Homo sapiens: one gene and its partners. The protein of the gene in region 2 purifies or fractionates together with the protein of the main gene of each other region. This does not show direct contact. Each region holds a gene or a part of one and is shown on either strand. Other genes may lie near its edges. The genes, in order: CTNNA1, SLC25A22, NUDT21, WDTC1, CASP3, NCOA5 and PRRC2A.

Evidence for each region.
Region 1: the proteins of SLC25A22 (region 2) and CTNNA1 purify together in Homo sapiens (co-immunoprecipitation; one large-scale study listed by IntAct). This does not show direct contact.
Region 3: the proteins of SLC25A22 (region 2) and NUDT21 purify together in Homo sapiens (affinity purification with mass spectrometry; one large-scale study listed by BioGRID and IntAct). This does not show direct contact.
Region 4: the proteins of SLC25A22 (region 2) and WDTC1 purify together in Homo sapiens (affinity purification with mass spectrometry; 3 studies listed by BioGRID and IntAct, with this or other methods). This does not show direct contact.
Region 5: the proteins of SLC25A22 (region 2) and CASP3 purify together in Homo sapiens (co-immunoprecipitation; one large-scale study listed by IntAct). This does not show direct contact.
Region 6: the proteins of SLC25A22 (region 2) and NCOA5 purify together in Homo sapiens (affinity purification with mass spectrometry; one large-scale study listed by BioGRID and IntAct). This does not show direct contact.
Region 7: the proteins of SLC25A22 (region 2) and PRRC2A purify together in Homo sapiens (affinity purification with mass spectrometry; one large-scale study listed by BioGRID and IntAct). This does not show direct contact.

The regions. Positions count from the first base shown.
Region 1 is NC_000005.10:138,777,425-138,780,924, forward strand, and holds part of CTNNA1 (catenin alpha-1), read left to right. Parts: intron 1-3,500. UniProt on the Homo sapiens protein: Associates with the cytoplasmic domain of a variety of cadherins. The association of catenins to cadherins produces a complex which is linked to the actin filament network, and which seems to be of primary importance for cadherins cell-adhesion properties.
Region 2 is NC_000011.10:792,629-795,281, reverse strand, and holds part of SLC25A22 (mitochondrial glutamate carrier 1), read left to right. Parts: exon of another isoform or gene 1-18; intron 19-112; 5' UTR 113-275; coding exon 276-295; intron 296-380; coding exon 381-506; intron 507-693; coding exon of another isoform or gene 694-768; coding exon 769-824; exon of another isoform or gene 825-829; intron 830-1,662; coding exon 1,663-1,753; intron 1,754-2,293; coding exon 2,294-2,412; intron 2,413-2,515; coding exon of another isoform or gene 2,516-2,554; coding exon 2,555-2,653. UniProt on the Homo sapiens protein: Mitochondrial glutamate/H(+) symporter. Responsible for the transport of glutamate from the cytosol into the mitochondrial matrix with the concomitant import of a proton. Plays a role in the control of glucose-stimulated insulin secretion.
Region 3 is NC_000016.10:56,437,833-56,441,332, forward strand, and holds part of NUDT21 (cleavage and polyadenylation specificity factor subunit 5), read right to left. Parts: intron 1,915-3,500; coding exon 1,825-1,914; intron 1-1,824. UniProt on the Homo sapiens protein: Component of the cleavage factor Im (CFIm) complex that functions as an activator of the pre-mRNA 3'-end cleavage and polyadenylation processing required for the maturation of pre-mRNA into functional mRNAs.
Region 4 is NC_000001.11:27,290,132-27,293,631, reverse strand, and holds part of WDTC1 (WD and tetratricopeptide repeats protein 1), read right to left. Parts: intron 1,418-3,500; coding exon 1,235-1,417; intron 1-1,234. UniProt on the Homo sapiens protein: May function as a substrate receptor for CUL4-DDB1 E3 ubiquitin-protein ligase complex.
Region 5 is NC_000004.12:184,627,196-184,629,821, forward strand, and holds the end of CASP3 (caspase-3 isoform a preproprotein), read right to left. Parts: intron 2,307-2,626; coding exon 2,077-2,306; 3' UTR 501-2,076; downstream 1-500. UniProt on the Homo sapiens protein: Thiol protease that acts as a major effector caspase involved in the execution phase of apoptosis. Following cleavage and activation by initiator caspases (CASP8, CASP9 and/or CASP10), mediates execution of apoptosis by catalyzing cleavage of many proteins.
Region 6 is NC_000020.11:46,072,963-46,076,462, forward strand, and holds part of NCOA5 (nuclear receptor coactivator 5), read right to left. Parts: intron 1-3,500. UniProt on the Homo sapiens protein: Nuclear receptor coregulator that can have both coactivator and corepressor functions.
Region 7 is NC_000006.12:31,627,215-31,630,714, reverse strand, and holds part of PRRC2A (protein PRRC2A), read right to left. Parts: intron 2,951-3,500; coding exon 2,476-2,950; intron 1,572-2,475; coding exon 1,381-1,571; intron 1,168-1,380; coding exon 870-1,167; intron 125-869; coding exon 1-124. UniProt on the Homo sapiens protein: May play a role in the regulation of pre-mRNA splicing.

The DNA of each region.
Region 1 (3,500 bases), on a different chromosome or scaffold from region 2:
GCAGAGACGCTCCTCACTTCCCAGACGGGGTGGCGGCCGGGCAGAGGCTGCAATCTCGGCACTTTGGGAGGCCAAGGCAGGCGGCTGGGAGGTGGAGGTTGTAGCGAGCCGAGATCACGCCACTGCACTCCAGCCTGGGCACCATTGAGCACTGAGTGAACCAGACTCCGTCTGCAATCCCGGCACCTCTGGAGGCCGAGGCTGGCGGATCACTCGCGGTTAGGAGCTGGAGACCAGCCCGGCTAACACAGTGAAACCCCGTCTCCACCAAAAAAATACAAAAACCAGTCAGGCATGGCGGTGCGCGCCTGCAATCACAGGCACTCGGCAGGCTGAGGCAGGAGAATCAGGCAGGGAGGCTGCAGCGAGCTGAGATGGCAGCAGTACAGTCCAGCTTCAGCTCGGCATCAGTGGGAGACCGTGGAAAGAGAGGGAGAGGGAGACCGTGGGGAGAGGGAGAGGGAGAGGAGGGAGAGGGAGAGGAGGGAGAGGGGGAGGAGGGAGAGGGGGAGGAGGGAGAGGGGGAGGAGGGAGAGGGGGAGGGGAAATGTTTCTTAATCTGTCTTTTTTTTTTTTTTTTTTTTTTTAAACAGAGTCTTGCTCTGTGGCCCAGGCAGGAGTGCAGTGGCACCATCTCCACTCACTGCAAGTTCTGCTCCCCCAGGTTCATGCCATTCTCCTGCCTCAGCCTCCCGAGTAGCTGGGACTACAGGCGACCGCCACCACGCCCGGCTAATTTTTTGGTATTTTTAGTAGAGACGGGGTTTCACAGTGTTGACCAGGATGGTTTCGATCTCCTGAACTCGTGATCCACCCGCCTTGGCCTCCCAAAGTGCTGGGATTACAGACGTGAGCCTCCGCGCCCGGCTGCTTTGACATTTTTCAAGACTACAGCCAGTTATTTTGTAGATCGTCTCACGCTTTGAATTTGATGTTGCCTCATGACTAGTTGAGGTTATGTAATTTTCAGGCGAAATAACACAGAGGTGATGTTGTATCCTTCTCAGTGCATCGTGTTAGGAGATACGTGATGTGGGTTTGTGTCCTTATTAGGGACAGTAATTTTGATTACTTGGTTAAGGTGGCATCTCAGGTTTCTGGACTGTGAAGTTACTATTTCCCCCATCTGTCATAAATAAATAATCTGTTGGGAGTTACTATGACACTAGATCACGCTACTGAGAAACTGAATGCTAATCTACTTGGTTAGCATTCTTTGATTCTTGCCTGAGGCAATTAATATTATGGTTCCTGAATGCTGATTTTTCTAAATACATTGTTCTTTCTACATTTATTAGTTTGTTTCCTATTGTTTGGAAGAACTTTTCCTTCTTTATTCATATTAGCATGGACTCATGCATTAGTCAATGGATCATACTTTGTTCTATCTAATCTCCACTAAAGCTCTCTGAAGAAGGCAGTGGTTGGTAGTCTTTTATGAGGGATCTAGTTCAAAGTTACGTTTTTTTTTTGAGATGGAATCTTGCTCTGTTGCCTAGGCTGGAGTGCAGTGGCATGATCTCGGCTCATTGCAACCTCTGCCTCCCAGGTTCCAGCGATTCTCCTGGCTCAGCCTCATGAGTAGCTGCGATCACAAGCAACCGCCACTACGCCTGGCTAATTTTTGTATTTTTAGTAGAGAGAGGGTTTCACCACATTGGCCAGGCTGGTCTCGAACTCCTGACCTCAGGTGATCCACCCACTTTGGCCTCCCTAAGTGCTGGAATTACAAGCATGAACCACCATGCCTGGCCAGTTTTCACCCAGTAGTTTTGACATTCATTGCTAATCCTTGGCTGGATCAGTTTTTACCAGTGGGGGTTGCAAGATGGTCATTTTCTAATTCTATTCTAGATTCATGGTAAAGAAATTCCCTCCCCATACCCTTTCTTTTGAGGATCCCTATGGTCTTAAGGATATTTATTTAATTATTTAGTTACAGACAGTTACAGTCATTATTCTCTTTGATAGTTGTCCTAAATTTGGCTGATGGGAGCCCTTGCTTCCTGTGTCTTTTGATATGATCTTGTTAGTCTTGTCCCCTTTCCGCACAATACAGTGCTTCAGACCTGGAACTTTGGTTTCTATTAATGGGAAATGGTCCGTTTTTTAAAAAAAAAATAAGTAGAAATGGGATCTCTCTGTGTGGCCCAGGCTGGTCTCAAACTCCTGGGCTTAAGTGATCCTCCTGCCTTGGCCTTCCAAAGTGCTGGTATCACAGGCATGAACCACCATGCAAATGGTATTTAATAGAAATAAATACTTGGGCACTGATAACACTGGTTTTTTTTTGTTTTTGTTTTTTTTTTGAGACAAGAGCTTGCTCTGTTGCCCAGGCTGGAGTGCAGTGGTGCGATCTTGGCTCACTGCAACCTCCACCTCCCAGGTTCAAGTGGTTTTCCTGCCTCAGCCTCCTGAGCAGCTGGGATTACGGGCGTGTACCACCACACTGGACTAATTTTTGTAGTTTTAATAGAGACGGGGTTTCACTATGTTGGCCAGGCTGGTTGTTTTGTTTTTTAATTTGCCAACATTGTTTTTAAGAGTAACATTGTAGCCCGTTGTGTCATTGTTACATAATTTATTGAGTGATCTGTTGTTTGAAATTTAGGTAATTTATAACTTTTAATGTTTATATAAAGCAGTGTTGTGAACATCATTGTATCCCAGTTTTTACATGTTCCTTAACTTTAGAATAAGATTTTAGCAGTAGATTTTCTGGGTCATACAAATGTACTTTTTAAAGATTTTATTTTATTTATTTATTTTATTTTTTATTTTTTTGAGACGGAGTCTTGCTCTTTCGCCCAGGCCGGACTGCAGTGGCGCTATCTCTGCTACTGCAAGCTCCGTCTCTGGGGTTCACGCCATTTTCCTGCCTCAGCCTCCCGAGTAGCTGGGACTACAGGTGCCCGCCACTGCGCCTGGCTAATTTTTTTTTTGTATTTTTAGTAGAGACTGGGTTTCACCGTGTTAGGCAGGATGGTCTCAATCTCCTGACCTCATGATCTGCCCGCCTCAGCCTCCCAAAGTGCTGGGATTACAGGCGTGAGCCACTGCGCCTGGCCAAGATTTTATTTTTTTAATTTTTATTATTATTATTATTTTTTAAGATGGAGTTTTTTTCTTGTTGCCCAGGCTGGAGTGCAATGGCACAATCTCGGCTCACTGCAGCCTCTGCCTCCCGGGTTCAAGCGATTCTTCTGCCTCAGCCTCCCGAGTAGCTGGGATTACAGGCGTGCACCACCAGCCTGGCTAATTTTGTATTTTTAGTAGAGACAGGGTTTATCCTTGTTGGTCAGGCTGGTGTCGAACTCCCGACCTCAGGTGATCTGCCCGCCTTGGCTTCCCAAAGTGCTGGGATTACAGGAGTGAGCCACCACGCCCAGCCTTTAAGCTTTTAAATGTCTACCAGCAGTTTGTTGTCTAGAAAGTTTATATTAGTGTTTACCTCAGCTTCATGCCTTTTCTTTTCTTTTTTTCTTTAATAATTGAAGGCA
Region 2 (2,653 bases):
CGGCTTCAGTCTGGGGTGGTGGGTGAGGGGCTGCGTGAGAGAGGGAGGCTGGGGGAGGATTACTCTTCGGGTGGCCCCACCCTCACTCATTCCCATTCCCTCATCCTTCTAGGACAGAAGTGGCGGTTGCTGACGCCTGGAAATTCCCCTGAAGGTGGAGCACCACCCAACCCCCCTGGGTCCCACCCTCCCTCAAGGCCTCCTCCACCTCCACCTCCACCCCGCCTGGCCTGGCGTCCACCTCTGCGGCTCCTACCTGGGTGCAATCGAGTTAAATGGCTGATAAGCAGATCAGGTCAGACTCCAGTCCTGGCTGCGTGCCTCACCCCCACCCTGACCCATGGTCAAGGAAGCCGGTCCTGACACCCCTGTCCACACAGCCTGCCAGCCAAGCTCATCAATGGCGGCATCGCCGGGCTGATCGGTGTCACCTGCGTGTTTCCCATCGACCTGGCCAAGACCAGGCTGCAGAACCAGCAGAACGGCCAGCGCGTGTACACGAGCATGTGAGTGTGCCGGGCGGTCGCGGGGAGTGGGCCCAGCATGTGGCAGCAGGAGAGGTGGGGGCTCTGCTCCTGTGCCCCCCACCCTGTTTGACAGAAGGGAAACGGGAGGCAGGCGGGCCTAGGGGAGATCCCACGTGGGTCAGGACTGGGGTCGGGGCTGGGCTGAGGACTTGGCCTCTTCTATCAGCCCTAGACAGTCCAGGGACCCTGGCCTCCGGCTGGCCCCAGCTGGCCCTGGCTCACCCTGTCCCCTTGGCCACAGGTCCGACTGCCTCATCAAGACCGTCCGCTCCGAGGGCTACTTCGGCATGTACCGGGGTGAGGTTTGGCTCGGCTGGGCTCGATATGGGCAGGCCTGGGTAGCGCCCGCGAGTCGTGGCAGGGAGCGGTGGGGGAGGCAGGGCAGGGCGGCCAGCCTGGGCCTGGTGTGTGAGCGTGGACGTGTTTGTGGGGGCTGTGCCTGTGCAGGGGGGACTGGATCTCTGGTGAGTGGTAGTTCTCAGCCTCTCCCGTGGCAGCTCCCCACCCCCACTTAGTGCCTGGTGCGTGGGATGCCATGGTACATCTGTCTCTTCTCTGGTGGCCACAGCTGCCTCTGCCTTCTGGGCCAGGCTGGACCCCGTTTGTGGCTGGGGATGGGAGGGAGTAAGGGGCATTACCGCAAAGCAGCTTAGGACACAATCCAGAGCCTAGATTTGGCAGAAGCTCTCCAGCCCTGAGCCTTCGGCACTGAGATGGGGGCTCTCCACAGCCTCCCCCGAGCTCTGGCCCAGTCCAGACCACACACTCCTGTGACCTCTGGCCCCAGCCCCCTGCCAGCACAAGCACCATCTGTCCTCCAGGGAGGGAGAGGTATCCTAGGGAGGCCTCAGGGGCTCCGGGGCAGTCCTCATGCCCTGAGCAGCAAGATGCTGCCCAGAATCAGAGACAGATGGAGCTGCAGTGGGCATGGGAGAGCCTGAGCCTGAGGTGCTGCCCCATCCCTGCCTGGCCCCGCCCCACCTGGCACACACCAGGCCCAAATGTGGGTGAGAGAACAGATGGTGGCCAGGAGTGACTGGGACAGGGTTTTGCCAGCCAGGAGGCAAGTCCTGGCCAAGCGCCTCCCCACTCAGGCCACCGAGCATGTCCCCCCAGCTGACCCCCTGCCCCACAGGAGCTGCTGTGAACTTGACCCTCGTCACCCCCGAGAAGGCCATCAAGCTGGCAGCCAACGACTTCTTCCGACATCAGCTCTCTAAGGACGGGTGAGGGTTCTGCCTGGCAGACACTCGAGGGGTCTTTGGCTTCAGATAAAGGATGGGTCCACCCTGCCAGCTGGGTCCCACCTGGGGGCTCTGCCTGTCTTCAGCCCCTTGCTTGGGGCTTCTTTGACCTCGTGGGGCACCCTCCCTCCTTTCCCCTGACCAGGGGAGCAAAGCAGATGTCAAATCAGTGGGGCTCTGGCTTGGTAGCCCTTGGCCTGAGGGCACTGACCAGCTCCCCCATCACTGGAGGGGGACTGCAAGGGCAGCCCCTTTTTGGGGCACTTGACCCCCAATTTCCCATTTTCCTTTGTCGCAGACAGCCCCACTGCCCTCCCCAGGCCCCTGCCTGTGGGGCCGTCTGTCCATCGGTCTCCTCCCTGCCTGCTGCTGCAGTGGCGGAGGCTGGGGGCTGTACCCCCACAGGCCTGCATCTGCCTCCACGGCTCCCACCATCCTCTGCGCCCAGGCATGGTGGGCAGCCCCGAGGGTGGCAGGTAGACCTGTCTCTTCCCACTTACTGCGGCCCCGCCCCTACCACAGGCAGAAGCTGACCCTGCTTAAAGAGATGCTGGCGGGCTGTGGGGCTGGCACCTGCCAGGTGATCGTGACCACGCCCATGGAGATGCTGAAGATCCAGCTGCAGGATGCAGGGCGCATTGGTGAGGGCGGGGGGAGGGGGAGGAGAGGGCAGAGGTGCGGGAAGAGGTGAGGGCGAGGGGAGGGTGGGGACGCAGGGAGGGCCAGAGCGTGTCCCCTGCCCAGTTCGCACAGAAGAGGAGACAGCAGCCTCTTTGTCCCCAGCCGCCCAGAGGAAGATCCTGGCTGCCCAGGGCCAGCTCTCGGCCCAGGGGGGTGCCCAGCCCTCAGTGGAGGCTCCAGCTGCCCCTCGGCCCACGGCCA
Region 3 (3,500 bases), on a different chromosome or scaffold from region 2:
GGATGCTAAGGAATTAAGTCATTCTTCTGAAAAATGTTAAGTAAAGGAATAGCAGCATATTTTTTTTTTCTACACAAACCACACACTTCAGTAATACATAAGTTTCTTTTTATATGAGGATCACAACCCTTATGAATTCATAGACCAGGAAATGATCATCAATGAGCTGCTAACATTACAACAAGAAACAACCAAATATTTTTAAATTCCTGATGGAAGTACACTATACCAATTGTGATAGACTGCCTTAAGATGACCCCCAATGATTCCTGTCTCCTGGTATTCACTGCTTTGTGTAGTCCCTCCTATAGCGTACCAGGGTTGGCTTGTGTGACCAATAGCACACAGCAGAAGTGATGGTATGCCACTGCCAAGATTAGGTTATCACAGACTGAGGCTTCCTACTTGGGCACTCCTCTAGCACTCTGTCTCTCACTATCTCTTGGATCACACAGCCTTGGGTAAGCCAGCTGCCTGAGAGTTGTCCTTTTAGAGATGTTCTCATGGCAAGGAACTGAGGGAGACCTTGAGACAACAGCCAGCAACACCTGAAGCAAAGCTTTAGTCTAACAGCCCAGATGAAACTAAGAAGTTTGCTAACACACACACGTGTAAGCTCGGGATCAGATACTTTAACCCCAGTTCCACCTTATGATGCAGTCCCAGCTGACAACTTGACTGTAACTTCATGACAGAGCCTAAGCCAGAACCACCCTAAGCAACTCCCAGAGGCCTAAAGGCTGCTAAATTTTGAGGTAATTTGTTATGCAGGTATAGATTATATACCGCCTATGACAAGCCTTGTTACCCCTCCCCAAATTAACTGAGCCTGAATACAATTTCTAGATCTAACTATCAATTTGCAAGACACACAGGGGAAACAGCTACATATTCAACAACAACAGGGGAATGCAATCGAAATGGAAACATTAGCCTGTTTTCATTAACAAATAAAACACAAGGAAAAAAAAAAGGTGCCAAGTGTGTAAAAGAGACTTTAGAGACTATCCTAATCCAAACAAATTATAAAAAGAAAATAGAAATAATCAGGATACGCGAACAGTGACTATATATTTGACAATAATATGGAATTGTTTATTTTTAGTATGATAATAACAGTACTATAGTTATCTTTTTAAAGAGATCCTTATTTTTATGATTCACACTGAAATATTTACAATTGAAATGAATAGCTAGGATACACTTCAAAATAATCCAAGATGAGGGTAGGAGAATGAAGCGGTGGAATGAGGGGTTGTGATGTGCTAACTGTTAAAGGCAGACGACGGGTAGCGCAATTCATTCACTTTTACCATTCTCTCTTCTTTTGTATTTGTTCTATTTATTTATTTATTTTTTGAGAAGGAGTCTCACTGTTGTCCAGGCTGGAGTGCAATGGCACAATCTCGGTTCACTGCAACTTCTGCCTCCCAGGTTCAAGCAATTCTCCTGCCTCAGCCTCCGGAGTAGCTGGGATTACAGGCTTGTACCATCAAACCCAGCTGATTTTTACATTTTTTAGTAGAGACGAGCTTTCACCATGTTGGCCAGGCTGGTCTCAAACTCCTGACCTCAACAGGTGATCCACCCGCCTCGGCCTCCTGAAGTGCTGGGATTACAGGCATGAGCCACCTCGCCCGGCCTTGTATTTGTTTTACATTTTCCTTTAAAATAAGAAGTGCTTGGCTTAATTTTGTAATTTAAATTAAGGAGGGAAGAAAAGAAAATTTCAAGTCAAATTCTACTTTAATCTTTTTTAAAGTGGCTAGAATTAAACGAGCTTTCTGCTTCCAAAATGCCCAGCAAATGTAACTGAACACTGACCTGAGGAGGTTCAAAATTTGGTCTCCACCAGTTACCAATGCAATCGTCAATGACCCAGTCTTGCAAAACTCCATCCTGACGACCCAGTATCTGTCAAAAAGAAATAAGCCAGTAAACAACTAAATATATGTACTCACAAATCCCCTTCTTCAGTGAACAGAAAATTCTTAGCAGTGCTCCTAATTGAAACATAGGGATAATATGCCTTCCATACAGATTTTCTATGATTTGTTAATATAGATGTCACTCTGCCCAAGACATACAATATTAGTTCAAAACTGGCAAGCTAGTATCAACATAAAAATTGTGTTCAAAATTCAGCTTTCATTTTTATTAATTTGTATAGCAGAACACTAAACTTATTTTAACCAAAGTCATACTCTACATATTTTAAGTGGCCAAAAATAGTTCTACAATGTTCATGGTGAGAAACTGCAGTTCTCTGTCCTGCTTCACCCATTCCCACTGGCTGTAACTTTCAACTCTTGGTTGTTTTTCCCCTCATGTTTTCTTCTATTTTTAAAAGCATTCTTCTTGGTCTTAAATAAACGGTTTATTTTAGGATAGTTTTAGATTTACAGAAAACTTGCAAAACTTGTTCAGAGACTTCTCATATACCCCACACAGTTTCCCCGACTGTTAACATCTCACACTAGTAAAGCACATTTGTCAAACTAATCAACCAATACCAAGACAAGATTATTAACTGAAGTCCATATATTATTCAGATATCCATAGTCTTTAACCTAATGTCCTTTTTCATTTTTCAGTCCCAGGATCCCATCTAAGATACCATATTACACTTAATCTTCATTTCTTCCGAGGTTCCTCTACATTGTGACAGCTTTTCATACCTTCCTTGTGTTTGATGATCTTGATAGCTTTGAGGAATACTGGTCAAGTATTTTGTAAAACATCCCTCAATTAAATTGAAGTTATGAGCTTTTGGGAAGAAAACTACAGAGGTAAAAGGGCCATTCTCATCACGTCATATCAAAGGTACATGCTATATCAATATGGCTTATCACTAATGGGCTGAGGTACTGTTTATCACGTTTCTTCAATGTAAAGTCATATTTTTCAAAAAAAAAATTTTTTTTTGAGACGGAGTTTTGCTCATTGCCCAGGCTGGAGTGCAATGGCGCAATATCGGCTCACTGCAACCTCCACCTCCCAGGTTCAAGTGATTCTCCTGTCTCAGCCTCCGGAGTAGGTGGGATTACAGGCACATGCTACCATGCCCAGCTAATTTTTTGTCTTTTTAGTAGAGATGGGGTTTCACCCTGTTGGTCAGGCTGGTCTCGAACTCCTGACCTCAGATGATCTGCCCACCTCACTCTCCCAAAGTGCTGGGCTTACAGGCATGAGCCACTGCACCGGGCCTCAAAACTACATTTTTTAAGAGATAGGGTCTTGCTCTGTCACTCAGGCTGGAGCACAGCGACGCAATCATGGCTCACTACAACTCCTGGCCTCAAGCAATCTTCCGGCCTCAGCCCCACAAAGCACTGGGATTACAGGTGTGAGCCACCATGCCCAGCCAAAATATTCTTTTATGACAGTTTCTTGATTTTCATTTTATTTTATTTTATTTTTTTGAGACAGAGTCTCGCTCTGTTGCCCAGGCTGGAGTGCAGTGCCGCAATCTTGGCTCACTGCAACCTCCACCACCCAGG
Region 4 (3,500 bases), on a different chromosome or scaffold from region 2:
AACTCAGGTCTGAGAGTGCTGTGGGGGTTCTGAGTGTTATAAGAACTAGCAGGAAATATTATATACAGTGATTTCTTTAAGAAAGACACTATAAGAGATTTATATAAGAAATTATAAGAATAAATAAATATAAGGAAATCATAAGGAATTTATGTAAGAGATTATGGGTAATTTATACTTTTTTTTTTTTTTTTTTAATTGAGACTGAGTCTCACTCTGCCACCCAGGCTGGAGTGCAGTGGCAGGATCTCTGCTCACTGCAAGCTCCGCCTCCCAGGTTGACGCCATTCTCCTGCCTCAGCCTCCCCAGTAGCTGGGACTACAGGCACCCGCCACCACGCCCGGCTAATTTTTTGTATTTTTAGTAGAGACGGGGTTTCACCGTGTTAGCCAGGATGGTCTCGATCTCCTGACCTCGTGATCCGCCTGCCTCGGCCTCCCAAAGTGCTGGGATTACAGGCGTGAGCCACCACGCCCGGCCTAATTTATACTTTTCATATTTTCCAACATAAGCGAGGATTAAGTTTTTTAAAAAATCACAAAATTGAAGAAAGTCCATTTCATAAAGAAGAAGGGGCCAGGCTGGGTGTGGTGGCTGACGTCTGTAATCCCAACACTTTGGGAGGCCGAGGCGGGCAGATCACCTGAGGTCAGGAGTTCAAGACTAGCCTGGTCAACATGGTGAAACCCCGTCTCTACTAATAATACAAAAATTAGCCAGGTGTGGTGGCAGGTGCCTGTAATCCCAGCTACTCGGCAGGACAACAGCTTGAACCCGGGAGGCAGAGGTTGCAGTGAGCTGAGATTGTGCCACTGCGCTCCAACACGGGTGACAGAGCAAGACTCTGTCTCAAAAAAAAAAAAAAAAAAAAAAGTAAAACAATAAATAAATAAATAAAAGAAGGGGCCAGGCACAGTGGCTCATGCTTGTAGTCCCAGCACTTTGGGAGGTCGAGGTGGAAAGATTGCTTTAGCTCGAGTTTGAGACCAGCCTGGGCAACAAGGAAAGACCCCGCCCCTATAAAAAAATTAAAAAATTAGCCAAGCGAGGTGGCGTGTGACTGTAGTCTCAGCTACTTGAGAGGCTGAGATGGGAGGATCGCTTGAGCCTGGGAGGTTGAGGCTGCAGTGAGCTGTGATAGAAGAAGAGGGCATGGCAATGGCAGTGAGGGAAAGGGGCAGTAGGTTCTCTGGGGACTTACTCACAGGAGACAGGAGGCTGAACTATTCATACCTGTGGTTATGGATCATGCGGATGTCATAGAGCCTCACGAAGGGCCCGCTGGCCCCAACTGCCAGGCAGTTGTTGTCCTGGGGGTTGACAGTGAGGCACTTGGCCTCCACCAGCTGGCCACAGTACTCTGTCAGGTCAATCAGCACCTCCGAGTGTTTGCTGTTCTCTCGAAGGTCATACTGGCTGTGAGAGAGGACAGAGTTAGGGAATTGGGGCTTGGGGTCCTTGAGAGGAAGGCAGGGGAAAAGATAAGTTCTTGTTATGCAAGAGGATTGGGAGGGACTTTGGACCTGTTTCTAAATAAGAATGTCAAAAACAACTCCCATTTCTTGAGTGTCCACAGTGTGCCAGGTACCTGTAGTAGGCTTCTCACACATTCTATTCTACTAGAACTCCTAAGGTGGATACTATTGTACATATTCTACAGATGTTAGTATTATTGCTACTATTATACTACTACTGATTACCAACACTTAGTGAAAATGTGCTTTATGTCCAGTATTGCCCCTTAATTAATTCCTAACGCCATCCCTAGGTATCATTAGAATACTGAAGTTCAAAGATGTTGAATAACCTGACTGAGATGACACTGCTAGTAAGTGCAGAGCTGGGGAAGCTTTCTGAGACTGCATCTTAAACACTGCTCCGTTCCTACCTAATCTAGTTTCTTTCATGAAACAAGGTATGGAGGTGACAGAAAAGAGACTCTGCAGATCATCTAAGAGCTATCTAGATATACCATGGGCCAAGGCAAGCCTAAAAGTCTCATCCACGCAGTAAAGGTAATGCCAAAAAGTCTACCAAACAGCAGCAAACTCCCACCGCTCCAGACGGGGAAACTTTGTGCTGCCAATACACAGGTATCCTCAGAGAGTGGTGGGTAGGGGGGACATCACCTATATGCTCTCCCCTCTTGCCTAGACATCTGTTATCACCTCTTTGCTGTTCACCTTGTCTTTCTAAGCCATCTTCACCAGGCTGCTCTTCCTAAAATATTATTTTACATCACTCTCCTGCTCAAAAAAATTGCAGAGATTCCTCAATACTTTTAGCACAAGTTTACTTTTACCAAACTCCTCAGTCTGGTTTTCAAGACTCAATTTCACATTTCTCTCCAACCTTATTCCTCAGTTTTCTAAATGTGGGTCAATTATAACTACAGAATTCTTTATCCTGCACATGCCATGTTTATTTCTGCCTTTGCAAACTCTGCTCAAGCTGGGGAATACACTCTGCTTTTCCTTGCTCATCCAAATCCTGTCTGTTCTGGAAGGCCCAGCTTATGTTCACCTTCTGCTAGGACACCTTCTCTGACTGTGCCTATGCCTAAACACTTAGGATCCTACCCAATGCGCTAGACGCTCCGCTTCTACCAGCTGGCCCTGGCAAAATCTGGTCAGCCAAGGTCAAAAAGTGCTACACAGAGTTGGACCTGCCACTGACAAAGTGCATTCTGTCTTCTGAGGTTCAGGGATGCAGTGACTTACCCCAGTCAAATACTGAGTGCGATTGCTAGGATTTGACCCCAGGTCTGTCTGACTTCACTGCCTTGCTCTTGACTATGTTATAATTTATATATGACTTAGATATTCCTCATCTGTAAAAGGAAAGAGGGCACAAAGTCCTACAGGAACTCAAGGGAGACAGATTAAAGCAGGCTGGGGAGATAAGAAAGAAGTTCTAAGGTCACAGCTGAAGAAAGGAGTTAAAGAAGGGCAACGACACCATTTTAGAATGAAGGGAAGTAGAGGCAAATGTGTAACAATGCAGGGCACTGGAAAAGGGGACAGTCCATTTTACCATTTCCGGGTGGCTTGCCCCCTCCCAGGTATATAGCCACTGACCAACTGTTCAAGAGAAATGTATCAAGCGGCTCTATGTGCCAGGCGCTGTGCTGGGCTCTAGGGATACAACCAAGAACAAGACAGACATGGAGTTGCTCTAAGAGAGTTTACTTTTACTATTTAGTGAGGATACAGACAAAAAAGTAAACCAATAAGTAAAAATAAAATAAGGCCAGGTGTGGTAGCTCACACCAGCAATCATAGCACTGTGGGAGGCCGAGGTGGGAGGATCACTTGAGCCCAGGAGTTTGAGACCTGCCTGGGCAACACAGAGAAACCCCATCTCTACAAAAAAAATAGAAAAATTAGCCAAGCATGGTGGAGCGTGTCTGTAGTCCCAGGTATTCAGGAGGCTGAGGTGGGAGAATCGCCTGAGCCCAGGAAGTCAAGGCTGCAGTGAGCCATGATCACGCCACTGCACT
Region 5 (2,626 bases), on a different chromosome or scaffold from region 2:
GTAATATATTTTCATTACAGAAATATTGGAAGAAATTTAAAACCACCCACAACCCCACTTTCCTATATTCCTTTTCTAAGCATATGAAGTAAAAAGACAGCAAATTCCTCTGTCAAAATCCCAGCGCCCAGAGGAGGCCATCAGTAAACATCAACGGCTTGTTGTATATCCTCTTAGGTTGTTCTTCCCATTAGACACTTATCTTGTGGAAAAAGTTTCAAATTCACACATATGGTCATATTTAAGGCCTGAGATCTATGCAAACAAAGTATCTTCCTGGCATTGTGGTCATTTCAGGGTCAGGAACTTCTGCGAGGACTTGGGAAGCATAAGCGATCTGTCTGCCCTGATCTAACTGCCACCACCTCAAAAAACTAGGCTAGGGTTCTGGTGCTTCCTCTTTGACTCTTCCAAATCAAGCTTCTGATTAAAAACATTTTAACTTCCAATTAGTGGCACAACATCAAAAACAACAGCAACAAAAAACTCAAAGACATTGGTAATTTTAAGTTTGAATGTATATTTTGAAATAAAAATGGAAAATAACAAATTTGTACAAAATTGTCACATAGAAACACACTTTAAGATACCATTACATGCTATGTGTATTTACAAAAGTTACAGGTCTAGTAAGAAAAAAGAAACTGTCATTGACAAATGCGAGCTCATTTTTTGAGCAACAAGAAATCTCCCGTGAAATGTCATACTGACAGCCAGTGAGACTTGGTGCAGTGACGGCTCCGCACCTGCTGAGGCCTGGAGCCTGCCTCCCGGGCTGAGGGCTCAGCTCTGGCCTCCGGCTGGATGCCGTCTAGAGTCCTATGTGCTCATAGGTCTTTTTCTTTCAGTAAACAGTATAAAACATTACTATTTTCCTTTGATTGTAAACTTCAACAGAAAATAACATACTTAAGAATTTTGCTACAAAGAGTACTATGATTTTTATTGCCTCACCACCTTTAGAACATTTCCACTTCACAAGTTTCTGATTTGCTTCACTTTCTTACTTGGCGATGGCGCCCTGGCAGCATCATCCACACATACCAGTGCGTATGGAGAAATGGGCTGTAGGCCCTTCCTGCGTGGTCCATGGCTCTGCCTTCATGGAACAGGCTGAGTCATGTCTCTGCTCAGGCTCAAACCATCTACTCTCAAGTTACAGGCAGCTCAGCCCATTCATTTATTGCTTTCCTTATATTCCACTGTTTATTATTTAAGTTGTATTTTCATATGTTCCTATAGAATTTATTCACATTACCTGGCTAATAATCAACAGTTTGGGGTTTTTATATAATAGCTCTTCAGATATATTGCTGGTATATGAAGCTCAACTGATATGCATAGGGACAAATCAGAAGATATTTATGCTGGTAGATCCAGGGGCATTGTAGCACCTTACAGTTAAAACTCCACCCCTCTATGAATGTTAAGTTTTAGCCTTAAAAGTCAAGTTAGTTTGCTCACACTTTCTCTCACATAAAATATTAGTTTCTTTCTCAATATTAAACATTATTATTATTTTTTTACAACAAAAGTGTTCAGGACAAACATCACAAAACCATAATCCCAGATAAATGGTCTAAAAATGCAGTTAAGTCATCCGTGTATATCAATTCTAAAATAAAGGTTTGAGCCTTTGACCATGCCCACAGATGCCTAAGTTCTTCCACATCATCATTTCTACAGTTTGACAAAACTAGAATACACAGTCTTAAGTGGGGGGAATATCATAAAAATTCATTACTTCAATGTTTAACTTTTTCACAATTACTTGAAAATTCATAGCACAGCATCACTGTAACTTGCTAATCATGAAAGCTGTAAATTAACAATCATTGCCTCTCATAATGACTGCACCAGTATCCATTTTTATTTATTCCTAATTTAATTCAATTGCAACTACCTGACTGGAAGTTTGAGGTAGCTTCATAGTGGTTCTATTTGATGGAAGGAGTATGTCTTAAAGTACCCTCTGCAGCATGAGAGTAGGTCAAAATGAGAGGGAAATACAGTACCAAATATACCATCTTCTCACTTGGCATACAAACTAAAAAAAACCACCAACCAACCATTTCTTTAGTGATAAAAATAGAGTTCTTTTGTGAGCATGGAAACAATACATGGAATCTGTTTCTTTGCATGAAAAGTAGCGTCAAAGGAAAAGGACTCAAATTCTGTTGCCACCTTTCGGTTAACCCGGGTAAGAATGTGCATAAATTCAAGCTTGTCGGCATACTGTTTCAGCATGGCACAAAGCGACTGGATGAACCAGGAGCCATCCTTTGAATTTCGCCAAGAATAATAACCTAAAAGGCAAAATACAAGCAAAATACCATGGATAGCTGATTTTAGTTGATTCTATAAATTATTATGTAGTCATAAAGGCAAAAATAAGCATAAACTTACATAAGTCTTATTAGTCATACAAATAAAAAAAAAAAGACACCTTTGGTTTCAGAAGAAATGATGCTGAAGGACGAATGTGTGCTATGCGTACACCCCCTGCTTTCAGCAAAGCTGGCCGGGGACCAGCTTCACGAACACTGAATTATTGAAAGTTTTACTTTCTGGACTCCCCTTTCAATAGGCAAGAAGAGCAAACACGCAGAAGGTAAGATGCAAAAGT
Region 6 (3,500 bases), on a different chromosome or scaffold from region 2:
TGAATGAATCTTGCTCCAGTACAAACTTCTATAACCGCACTTACCACACTGTTCTGTAATTGTTTACGTGGCTTCCCTACCAAATAAGAAGTTCTCTTGAAGGCTTTGTAGCTCTAGGATACACCATAGGAGTTCAGTAAATGTTTAATGAATTGAATTATTCTACTAAACTGTAAGCCTCTCAAGAGCAGGCAGCATGTTTTGCTCATACTTTTGTCGTCTACCATGGTTACACACGTTAGGTATTCATCATGATGTCATCAGCTTGTGGAAAACCTCACCTCAGCTACACGGGCACAGCAAAAACAATTTAAATGCCAATTTTGCTTCCATGAAAAATATTTGTTATATATTCTAAGGTTCACCAGCATTCCTGACTTGTGAGAGCAAACATATCATAGACCAGGGACTTTAAATGAGAATAGCTAAGCATTATTTTTCTTATTAGAATAAAGTAAAGACTAACCAAGATTCTTACTTCAACCTTCCTTATTACATCATATAATCTTCCTAACATGTAACATCTGATGTAGCATGTAATGTGGGCAAACACTCAAGATCCAAAGAGAAAGGACAACTGCAAAGTATTTTTGGATTAATGATCGGCAGATAAACCTGCCTTGGGGAGCAGTTAGAAGTAGTCATTAGAGGTGGAATCCAATTTCAAGTGTTCTTGGCAATCAGGGCTGAGATATCATGATCCTGACAGACCACAGACCACACACAAAGCCTTGGGCTGGTGGAAATCGGGGTGGGGCATGTCATAGCATGTTATTTACCACCTTCGGAGTATTATAAGTGTTATGTTATGATTGGTCCTCATTCTTTTGAATCCACTGAAAAACCTTACTTACCTGTCAAAGTCCATCCCTGCAAGTTGACTAAAACTCTAGATTCGCAAAGTCTGGGTTCAATCTTCCAGTCTGAGAGGGCAAGCCCCACCCTTTCCCTCAAATAATTTGAAGTCCATGTGCAACAAAACTACTAATTCCCTCTCAAGTGCCTTCAGGGTAAAAATGTAGAAGAGGTGATATTCACAAAAGGAAAAAGAACCAAAGGCATGGTGGAAGTAGGGACAAAGAAGATAATAATTTTCTCAAAAGGAAAGGCAAAGCCTTTTTTCCTTTCTCCAAAAGATAAACACTATGGTAGACTGCTGTTCTTCTGGAGACGAAAACAAAACAAAAAACCCTTTAGGGTTGCTTTAGGACCCAAACAAAGAACTCCTCAGAACAAAAGGGCTCCTGCTGCTGGCCCCAACATATTTTTCAAAACAAGACTACAGCTAACAAAAGGGCAGTAGTATGCACGAATCAAAGTGCAAGAAGACAAAGCTTCCTGTGGGAGACGCTGGACCTCAGATGATAAGTGGGTTAGAATCAGGTTTCTGGAGCATAATAAGGTTAACAATATCATCCCACAGCACCAGAGGTGTTTTACTAAAGGAACCAAATGCAGCATACCCTCAGGTACTACATCACTAGAGGATAAAAAGAAACTGAACAGTGGTTAAATTTCAGCACTGGAGTCCACAAACTGAAGGCAGGTGGCAAACACAACTAAAATTCTGCTGTAAATTCCTCATCTATTCAGGAGGGGGAAAAAGGCAAATACTCTTTGCCTTGAGGGGAATATAGTCACACTGCTGGGAAACATTTGAGACGTAAGGGCGAAAGGGGTGAAGGGGAAAACAATGGCTCTGGTGGCAAGTGATGAGCTTCTGGTAGAATGTGTCTCTTCCTGAGGACTAAAGGGGTGTGCAGAGCACCAGGCATGTGACAGCCTACAGAGTAAGAACTGATAGATGATCATCTTGGAAAACTGTGATGGACTTTGAATTTCTCTTTGGCAAGAGACTGAAACTTCACATCCAAGATGGTTTTCTTTGGCTTTGGTTCTACAGACGGTCAGGGAGGAAGACCCCTGTCTTTTTCTTTCTTTTCTGCAAAGGTCAGCATCTCCTTTCTTCCTTTCTGTTCACCGGAATGTCTTCCTTGGGAGGGCCAGCCTCTTTCTGACCCTGAAAAATCCTTCATTAGCTCTTCAAACTTCTGTCACAGATATACTGTCCACAAATATCATCATCTAAATGGCTGGCTGCTGTATGATGTTGATCCTCCACCAGGAGGGCTTCATGCTACTGTTAGAAATGGAGACAACAGACTTGTCCAGAATATTGCCATTAGGTGGAGGTAGGATATGGACGTGCAATGAGATATCACACCTCACAGACCCAAATTTTACACATGTCCATGCTTTTCCTTAGGAAGCACTGACAACCTTCTCCAGCACAAACAGAACTTTCTTATTGGTAGAGGTGGCAGCTGCTGAGAACTGATGACTTCTTCAAGTGTTACTGCAGAGGTAATCACAACCTGGAATTTCTTTGTGGCCCACCTAGAGCAAGGGCTGTCTCACAACCAGGGAGCAAGCAATAATCAAAAGCATTAGGGCCCTGTGGATAAGCAGAAAGCATTTCAGGTCATATAAGAAACTTGTCTACAGCCAGGTTATTTCTGATGAGCCGATACCCAATGACTTTCACCAAAGAGATACCAGGTTTAACATCTTTCACAAATATATGGGGAAAAATCCTCTGCAGAGCGTTGGATGCAGACAAGTTAATTCTATTTGTTCTTCTTTAAGTCATTCAGAAGTACAGTCTTACTTCTTGTACCTAGAGGCCACATCTGCATAAAGATATGCTACAAGATCTGGACTGTCAAGGTGTTGAGCTGAAGATGGTAACTGAGATATCTAAGGCACAACTGGAATCATGATCCTGTCTTTGAAGAAGGACTAATGCTTAGTATCGATGCTTGACAACTTGCATGGTAACTATGCAAGGTACTCACAGGAGTTCAATGAAGTGGCCCTCAAGAGTTAGATGATAAGAATTCAGGCTGAAATGTGATCCAGAGCAGAGATTCCTCATGCAGAGTTCTGTGCTTGGCTGGGCCAATATTGTCAGAATTACACACTGACAGCTGGAGTCATCAGGGAGTCATATTATTGAATAGAGAGCAAAGCCAGCAGAACTGTGGTTTACTGAAACATCTGAAGAGGTGATAATCCTGTAAAACTCCCAAAGATACCTACGTTAAGTCCAGCAAAACAAGGTGTTATAAAGGTCTTGCCAGTATGCTTATACCAATATTCTTATTAAACGTAGAAAGCGCTAAAAATGTAGAGGTATAACTTTAGGAAATATTTGCCATAGGTAGTGTTTTTTTTCCCCTGTGAATGATGCACCCCCTGTGGCTGGGGGCATACAAAATGATTAGGGCTGCCAAATAAAGGCAGTTTGTTGTTGTCAACTATTGATACATTTGGAGTTATCTCAAGGCTTTGACTGGAAGCATGCACCCAAAGGAGGTACCCAGTGTTCACCCTCAGTTAAATGATTTGCCCCTTCCAGATTAATTACTTGCCCGTCTCACCTACTCTTTGCAATTTATGTCTGCCCTATTGGTATATCTTAAGAGATAAAGTATGATCAG
Region 7 (3,500 bases), on a different chromosome or scaffold from region 2:
CCTACCCAGGCCAACTTTGGATCCACCGGTGGAGTGCCCCGTTCCCGTAACATAGCAGGTGCATGACGGTCAAATGGCTCTGAGCTTGAGCCCCCACTGTCTGAACGCTCTCGGGGAACTAGGCCTGAAGAAACCAAAGAAAAAGAAAAATAATCCTATTCATGTCACAAGCCCTCCAGCCCAAAAAGCATCTCCCCTCGCGGTCAAGTCAGCTCTTCCATCTCTTGTTCCCAGTAGGTCCGGGCCTTGCCTGCTCTTATATAACAAGGTTATCCACTCAGATTCCCTACAAGAGAATCAACCCACCCCAAATAAATCCTGGCAAATGAAGGACCACTGCTTCTTTCATTCATTCATTCATTTTTGAGATGGAGTTGTGCTATTCATTCATTCATTTTTGAGACGGAGTTTCGCTCGTTGCCTAAGCTGGAGTGCGATGGCACAATCTCGGCTCACTACAACCTCCACCTCCTGGGTTCAAGCGTTTCTCCTGCCTCAGTCTCCCGAGTAGCTGGGACTACAGGCGAGCGCCACCACGCCGGCTACTTTTTTGTATTTTTAGTAGAAATGGGGTTTTACCACGTTAGCCATGGTGGTCTCGAACTCCTGAACTCAGTTGATCTGCCCACCTCGGCCTCCCTAAGTGCTGGGATTACAGGCGTGAGCCACAATGCCTGGCCAACCACTGCTTATTTCTTAACTAAGCCCATTTTTGCAACAGAGCTATCTCAGCAGTGCCAAGCATATGCCCTTCCCTCATCACTATGATGGGCAAAACCTATCGTACCAGAGTCACAGTAAGACCCTAATATCCAATGCCTAAGACTGAGGGGACTTTCCTGTTTCTCACTCCTCCCATGCCCCCTTACCAGAGGGATGCACACCAGGAGGGTAGAAGTCTAGAGGGGGACGACCCTGGAGGAGCCGGGGGTCCACATAAGGAGGAATCATCATCCATCGGGGATCAAAGTTCATTGGGGGCATGGGTGGGGGCCGGCCCAGAGCACCTGGGTACAGGGCCTTGGGGGGCGGGGGTGGAGCCTGTGGAGCTGGCACAGCCCCCAGGGTCACAGGCTGTGGTGGTGATGGGGGCACTGGGGTAGGAGGGGCAGAGCCCTGTTGATGCTGCTGCCACTGGTGCTGCTGCTGCTGCTTCAGGAGCTGCTCCTAGGAAAGGAGGAAAGACAAGATGAGAGAGGCTCAAAGCACACATGGACAAAGGAATCAGCAAAGAAAAAACTTGGACTAGGGGAAATTGGCGTGACAATGGAGACAACTGGACAAAGAAGCAAAGGGACCCAGAAGGTAACTTATGAAGAGAATTAGGGACCGAAGCCAGGAAGAAAAGCAGCCCTTAGAGGGTAAACAACTTGATTTCACCTGCTGCTGCCGCTGGAAACGAGGAGGCAACGACTTCTGATATTTGGGGTAGCCCAAGCCCTGACTAGGGGGCTGGCGGGTGGGACCAATCCCATCACCCTTGGGTTCCACCTTTGGAACTGGGGGTGTGGTAGGAGGAGGAACCTCTTCTGGTGGTTCAGGACCCTCTTTTGAGGGCAGTTGTGGTTCCACTGCATCGGAAAAAACACAACAGAGTGATCTAGTCCAACAATAGACACTCCATGAACACCCCAGGAATCTCACGTCTCATCTCTAGCTCCCTTAAGACTAAAATATTCTATTCAACATCTATTCTATTGAAGCCCCTCCCATTTAAGACCCATTAAAGCACTTCATGGCCTCTCATGAGCCTATGGTGGTGGCATTAACTTTCTATGAAACCATTAGAACAACAGTACTTTCTTCAGTCTTGGCCTATAGGAAATAGTTTTCATTTTTATTTATGTATTTCTTGTGAGACAGGATTTTTTTTTGAGACAGAGTCTTGCTCTGTCACCCAGGCTGGAGTGCAATGGCATGGTCTTGGCTCACAGAAATCTCTGCCTCCCGGGTTAAAGCGATTCTACTACCTCAGCCTCCCAAGCAGCTGGGACTACAAGCACATGCCACCACACTTGGCTAATTTTTGTATTTTTAGTAGAGACGGGTTTCACTATGTTGGCCAGGCTGATCTTGAACTCCTGACCTCATGTTCTGCCCGCCTCGGCCTCCCAGAGTGCTGGGATTACAAGTGTGAGCCACCATGCCTGGCCGACAGGGTCTTGCTTTGTTGCCCAGGCTGGTCTCAAACTCCCTAGGCTCAAGCGATCCTCCACCCCAAGCCTCCCTAAGTGTTGGGATTATAGGCGTGAGCTACAGTACTCTGCCAAGAAATGGTATTAGACTACAACCTAAGATTCCAGACAAAACCTTCCCTCCTTCAGATATACAAATGATAGAACACTATCACTGATAGTCCAATAAACCAAAACAACTGCCTTCTACTTCATTTATCCCCAGCCTTACCACCCTGCACCTTTAAGCACCTTGAAGCAGTGATCTGACATCTGGTAGTACCTATCCCCATCTCCATACCTGGGCTGGCTTCGAAGCTGCCACTGCTGGTGCTACTGGTACTGCCACCACCACTCACCAGAGTGGGAGCCGCAGCCACACCTGGAGTAGGAGTAGATTGGGCAGGAGGGGCCTGTGCTGGCTCTTCAGGTTCTGTCTCTGGTGTTGGGGCTGATGCTGGAGGTGGAGCTGGAGGTGCAGGGAGTTCTTTAGGGACTGCAGGTGGTGGAGCTGGGGTAGAAGGGGCAGCAGGTGGGGCAGCAGGCTCTGCTTTGAGCCGCTTGTCAGGTGCCCCAAACTTTTCATCGAGTCGCTTGAGCTTCTCAGCACAGGCTGCCCGGCGCTCTTCTTGCATGCGCCGCTCCTCTTCTTCTCGCCGTCGCCGGGCCCGCTCCACTGCCAGGGAAATCTCAGATGACGACTGCTTTCGTCGCTGCCGCCATGCCTCATCCTCATCTTCAGGTGCTGGGGGCTTGCAGGGAGGACCCCCACGATCCTGTCAATTGGCAAGACCCAGCAGGGCCAGGGGAATCAGTTACTATGCTTTCTATCATCTCTTTTACAACAAATCAACTGTCGCTACTTGCAGGATGCAACGACCCAGGCTTTGGGGTTGATCTCTCTGGGTGGTGACAAACTCATTATCCTGGTCTTCTTTGAGACCACGTCTTGCTATGTTGCCCAGGCTGGTCTTGAACTTGGGCTCAAGTGATCCTTCTGCTTCAGCCTGCTGAGTAGCTTGGACTACTGATGCATACTAACAGATCCAGCTATCTAGCCACCCTAGTCTTTTTATTTTTCTGTTCCCTCTCTCCTTCCGAAACCCAAACACCCAGGGCTCCTTTTTCTTCTTTCCTCATTAGCATCCCAGTTTCTCACTTCTTACCCAGACTCCCCTATTACCAAAGATATTTAAAAGCTTCCCAGGATGTTCTGCAGCCTGGCACTTCACACAGCCCATTTTTAGCACCCCCCTTCCTCTATATCACAACCGCTTCAATTACTCAGCTGACACCAATTTCCCACAGCTGACCCTCTCAATCCCT